Regions from separate parts of the Homo sapiens genome. Here region 2 is reported to be linked to region 1. The links are microRNA targets in miRTarBase. Many come from high-throughput screens and were not tested one by one. Region 1 holds a microRNA gene; the other region holds the end of a gene's coding sequence.

What was found. The annotated mature microRNA hsa-miR-7705 reads AAUAGCUCAGAAUGUCAGUUCUG and lies in region 1 at 1,513-1,535, shown strand. An mRNA with a match to its seed (bases 2 to 7 or 8) in the 3' UTR can be bound and repressed. Matches are read on the target gene's strand: a 7mer-m8 pairs with bases 2 to 8, a 7mer-A1 pairs with bases 2 to 7 and ends in A, and an 8mer does both.
Region 2: the mRNA of KIF21A is a reported target of hsa-miR-7705. Seed matches in the 3' UTR shown: 7mer-m8 at 1,688-1,694.

The regions. Positions count from the first base shown.
Region 1 is chr8:100,701,385-100,704,536 of GRCh38, reverse strand. It overlaps MIR7705 (microRNA 7705), which reads left to right and starts at 1,513; the gene lies at 1,513-1,569. PABPC1 (poly(A) binding protein cytoplasmic 1) reads left to right here. Exons shown (of 15, transcript NM_002568.4): 14 at 147-240; 15 at 1,178-1,621. The coding sequence ends at 239.
Region 2 is chr12:39,291,826-39,294,825 of GRCh38, forward strand. KIF21A (kinesin family member 21A) reads right to left here. Exons shown (of 38, transcript NM_001173464.2): 38 at 1,403-2,692. The coding sequence ends at 2,599. Among named protein-coding and RNA genes, the nearest start is that of LINC02406, 150 kb to the left of the region's middle.

The DNA of each region.
Region 1 (3,152 bases):
AATGGATATAGTTGTTTAGTGTAACAATTTATACTTTCATTTGAGGGAAGAAACTTATCTTTGTTGGGAATTGGTATGTTACCATTATGAAACTCTTTATTTCCATTCCTTTCCTGAACCAGTTTATCTGTTTTCCCCTTTTTTAGGTTGATGAAGCTGTAGCTGTACTACAAGCCCACCAAGCTAAAGAGGCTGCCCAGAAAGCAGTTAACAGTGCCACCGGTGTTCCAACTGTTTAAAGTGAGCTTTTCCCTCTGGTTTGTTGTTTTAAGCTTGTTTTCTTCATCTTTTATAAAGTTTGTTGAGCATATTTTGAAATGTACATAGCAAAAGATCATTTTACAGTTCATTTAAATGTATTGCTAATTTTTCAAGGAAAAGTGGAACTAACTATAGAGGAATTAAAGGAATTTTACCCGTTAACTGTTGGATTTTTAAAATCCCAGGACTTTCAGGTGGTGTTTTTTTTTTTTTTTTTTTTTGAGATGGAGTTTCGTTCTGTCGCCCAACCTGGAGTGCATTGACGCGATCTCGGCTCACTGCAACCTCCACCTCCCAGGTTCAAGCAATTCTCCTGCCTCGGCCTCCCGAGCAGCTGGGATTAACAGGCCCATGCCTGCCACCGTGCCCAGCTAATTTTTGTATTTTTACTAGACTTGGGGTTTTGCCATGTTGGCCAGGCTGGTCTGGAACTTCTGACCTCAAGTGATCCGCCCACCTCGGCCTCCCAAAGTCTTGAAATTACAGGCGTGAGCCACTGCGCCCTGCCAGATTTTGTATAGTAATATATATATAAAATGACCTGTCACAGGTTGGCTTTCATAGTTTTACCTTTCCTTTTTGGGTGGTGCCCTTGGGTCTCTACTACTGTCTTTCATCACTCCCAAGAAATTGAGTAGTGCAGCCAGGATCAGGACCAGGGATTGGCAAATGTTTTTTGTAAAGGGCCAGATAGGAAATATTTTGGGCTTTGAGGACTGTGTTATCTCTGAAATGATCTTGTTCCAGTGTTACCATGTCAAGACAACCATAGATAGTATGTATACAAATGAACAGGTATGGCTGTGTTCCAGTAAAACTATGGATAAAAACAACCACATTGCATTTGGCTAAGGGCTTTAATTTGCTACTGACAAGTGATAGTCCTGGTCTTAATTTGTTTTTTTAACATTTACAGATTGATCAGGGACCATGAAAAGAAACTTGTGCTTCACCGAAGAAAAATATCTAAACATCGAAAAACTTAAATATTATGGAAAAAAAACATTGCAAAATATAAAATAAATAAAAAAAGGAAAGGAAACTTTGAACCTTATGTACCGAGCAAATGCCAGGTCTAGCAAACATAATGCTAGTCCTAGATTACTTATTGATTTAAAAACAAAAAAACACAAAAAAATAGTAAAATATAAAAACAAATTAATGTTTTATAGACCCTGGGAAAAAGAATTTTCAGCAAAGTACAAAAATTTAAAGCATTCCTTTCTTTAATTTTGTAATTCTTTACTGTGGAATAGCTCAGAATGTCAGTTCTGTTTTAAGTAACAGAATTGATAACTGAGCAAGGAAACGTAATTTGGATTATAAAATTCTTGCTTTAATAAAAATTCCTTAAACAGTGCACGGATTTGCTTTTTTTCAAAGTCTTTATAATTGCCATGCATAAATAGGTAATATCTTAATGGTGCTGAGCCGACATAAGAATCTTTTATGAAAAATGTACTGTTAAGTTCAGGGGGTCTATTGGTTTTATGTAAAAGGCACAAGACAATTCCTGTAGTGCATTTTATGAGTTAAGGTTTCCATACGGATTATTGAAACAATTTGTTACATGTATTTGTTACATGATCTTAATATTTCATGTACAAGACTGACACCCATCCACTTTTGAAGATAAGCCAGTTTATGGGGTTTTTTTTTTTGCGGGTAGAGGTTGGGTCTCCCTATTTTGTCCAGGCTGGTCTCGAATTCCTGGGCTCAAGCATAAGCATAAGGCTTATTCCTGCATAAGCCACCATGCCTGGCCTGCCAGTTGATGATTATATTGAGGTTTCTAGGCTATGAGATTATTAGCTTAAACCCTTACATGATATAAAACAATGATAGCTACTCTTGAAGAGGATGTAGATAAGATAGGCTTTGGTATGATTTTAATATTAAAGTGTTAAAAGTTATGATTAGTTTTAAACCTTATTCTTGTAACGTCTTTAATTTGGTAGTTCATGATTGTGGCTTAATTTTAGTGTAATACCCAAAGTACTTGTTAAAGGTGAAGATGTGGGGTTCTTTTAGGAGGATGGATTTAGAAGATCTAGCCTGGAGTATAGGGTATCTGCATAAAACTGATAACCCAGGCAGTTTACACTTTTAGGTTTTAATTTCTAACCGATCATTCTCTGTGGACTACTGCTAGAGTTAGCTTTCTAAGTTAAACGTGTGGTTATCTCATTCCATGCTAAACAAACAATTCTATTAACCTTCGGGATTAAATAAATCTAAACAAAACCCTAGCTTGTGACAGTGGCAGCCCTCAATGCTGATGAAGCCTAGTGATGCTTCTGTACCTAGAATGCTTTTCGCTTTGGCTTCTTGTTTTGAAACTCAAGATAATACAAACTCCACCCTCCTACCCTTTAGCATAGAACAGTGCATCCAGTGGGGATCCTGATCATTTTGTATTTTGCCTCACAACAGACATACCCTCTCAGGGGCTGATGCTTCATTACAATTTTTTTTTTTGAAAGATTTTCTTCATTGTGTTAAGGCAGAGAAACACCATATTTTTTCAAAATTGTAATACAAAATGGTTCAAATTTTGAGGTTTTAAAAGAGCCGGCTATTTTGAGACACTTGAAGTCAAATCTATAAAGTTCACACACTAGTTCACACACCAAAATCTAGTGCCAGGTTGGGTTCATAGCTTTATACGTTAGGTAGCTGATTGATTGGAAGTCAGTATTTGTTGTGAGATTCGAAGATAAGTCATATTCATCTGTTCCTGAAATGTCTGCTTTTTCAGATAGAGCAAACTTTAAGTGGCCAGAGCCAACAGATTTGGGGAGTAGGCATTTGGATTCTTGCAGGAATTAAGGAAACAGTTGATTCTCATTTGCAGATTCCGTATTTACAAATTTGCCTACTCACTAAAATTT
Region 2 (3,000 bases), not on the chromosome of region 1:
TTGATGATTTTAATTTAAATTTTTATGAAAGACTCCACATCAACTGAGAGTTAAATAATAAATGTGAAGCTGTAAGGTAGAGCTGAATTAATATGAAAAATCTTGTAATTATTTCTTAGCAAACTTTTAGAGATTTGGATTTAAAACCAGAAACATATCTTCTAAAAAAAGAAGAGGCTATTCTGTGTGTATGGGGGAACAGAACATATATTTAATACACAGTGTGGAGTAATCCATTTTAAATCTTACAGGCACTATCTCAACTGCTTTAAGAGTTATTTTAACATTTCTGAATGGGATCTTTAGGGGTTAACATGTTTCAAAATGTAATTTTTTTAAAGAAGGCTGCCTCTTTTACATATGCTTTTGAATTTCTTCAATCAGATCCACACTAGCTGAGCCTCCAGCATTTTAAAAGGTAAAATTAGACACTGAACTTTGTATTTTGCACAACCAAACACAGTGCTCAGGACCTCTCATTGGATTTGCAGTTAAGTTTGGATATGTCTAATAGGTGCTAAAGCACCCTGGACTTTATCTGAGCACTTACCAAGCTATTATGTAAATGCTGGTTTTATTATCTCACTCTACTCAGAGGGCAAGTGTCATCTCGGTTTTGTTATTTTTTCACCCCCAATACTTGGCAATGTGTATGCTCATTAAACATCTATTGAATAAGTCAATTATCAAGCTAATGAATTATTGAGCTGTAAACCTGCAAAAAAGAAACACTGCAAGAGACTTGAAATTAAAATAGTCTTGAAGTCTCTTTCAGATCTTGGCATGGTACCTTCTTTCAGGGAAGGAGGAAAAATTACAAAGGAGCTGAGTTTTGTCCTTATAGGAAAATCTCTTCCTTAAAACTTTTTTCAAAGATTATTTTGCTATGAAACTTAGAACATATGCACATACATAAAAGAGGATAGAGAAATATACATACAGTTCAACATGTATGTAGAAGGTGAATGCTTAAGTTTAGGACCCAGGTCAAAAATTACAACATTGCTAGGACCCCAGAAGCACCCTCCCAACCCTCCCAACTCACCTGCTGTGACACCTGCCAGTCACAAGCCACCCCTTCTCTTCTCTAGAAAACAAGGTCACCACTGTCTTAATGTTTATAGGAATTTTTTTTGTTTTGTTTTATCATCCATGTTCAAATTCCTAAATTACACAGTTGAACTTAATTGCTTTAAGTAGTGAGTTTCCATGGTTCATCAAGATTAGGTTACTGTTTAAAATCCTCAAGAATATTTCACGTCTAGTAAGCAAAGAAAGGAAGGCATATGGATTGCCAGATAACCAAAAATATGTCTTTTCTTCCATCACACAAAAATAAAACAAAGTTTTACAAACACTGGCCATTCTCTTGCAATTTGGAAAAAGAACAATACAGTAAAAATAATTTCATAGCAACATGTTTATTTAAGCCCTAGCTAAGTTTTCATTTACAAGCAAATATTTTCAGGGGAAAAAATCACATAAGACAATATTTTCAAATGTTATACCATCTACATAAAAATTAAACTTGCAGAATTTACAAATTAATATTCTGAGCAGACAGAAATATTATACATCCTTTTGCAAAATCCAGTCAACAACTTTTAAAAATTCATACAGGCACAACACAAGATAGTCTCTCTATACAATCTACCTATTTACATAGCTTTTCCCACCACAGATGATAATAGCTCTCATCATAGCTACCAAGGTTCGCAAACATAGTATATTTAAAATATATTTAGCAGCATATAAAAAATTAGATAAAAGGGAAGGAAATACTACTATTAAATAAAAACAAAATTAAATGGTCATAATAGAAACAACTCCATAGGAAAATAGATCAAAATATATTTCTGTTAGGACATCAACAATGTTTCCCATCACAGAATATATGCACAGCACTGGAAAAAAAAAAAAAAATTAACAGCATTTTAGTCCTGAGCACAGAATATAGTAGAGCTGCAAAACTTTGGTCAATACAAGTAAATGCCAACATTTAACACAAACTGTCTACCCTTCTCTGTTAGTAGATTAAGATCAATTCCACCTTATGAAAATTCATCAATAATATTCTCATATCTTATTTTTGTCCATTACATTAAAAGAGCTTTGAAATTTGGGAATCCACTACAGACTGATATAAATACCTGACAAGCAAACCACAATTTGACTAACATTTTCAATATTTAGTTTAAATACATAAATCACTTGAATAAACTACATGAATGAGTTAATGGTGGGCTGCATCGTATTCCAGGTGTGTTTTCTGACTGTCACAAAAGCAGACGTCTTGGTAATTCAAATAATTTGAAAGTGTGTTTTATAGATAGGCACAAAAATTCAGCCACAATAAAAGTGTGAATAAAGCAATATATCAATTGTAGGATATATATCTATTGGTTGATCTTAAAACTAAGCACACAGGATAGTACACAATTTTATTAGAATACCATTTATAGTCAGCAGTTGAATTCAGATATATTTTCCAGTTAATCCGATTCATACGTTTTGCCTAGTAAGTACAGGACAACATTTTCCATAAAGAATACAGAGTATTATCACAGCATTCAGTTTACAACCTATCTTCATTCATGTTTAATTACTGGCAATATCTTCCCCCAGATCTCCTGTGTCAGAGATCTGACCATCTTGCAAATTGCGAGCCTTCCAAATTCTCACAGTTCGATCACTACAAAAAAATAAACAAAACATGGATATATGAACAAGGGCAGAAAGATAAAGAAATAGCTCTTATAATTACTTATCATGGAAATATTTTCTACATAGGTCTTCAAGAAATCCAAGTATAAATATGCATTGTCTCATTTATATAGCAAACACATACCTTAATAATAACAGCTTATATTATCAAGGGCTTACTGTGAGCCAGGCATTGTTACCATGTGCCCTTTACATATGTTAACACACATTTAATTCCCTTTAACTACCATCAGCAATAGCTACTGCTATAATCCTCTTTTTATTGAAGAGCTAATT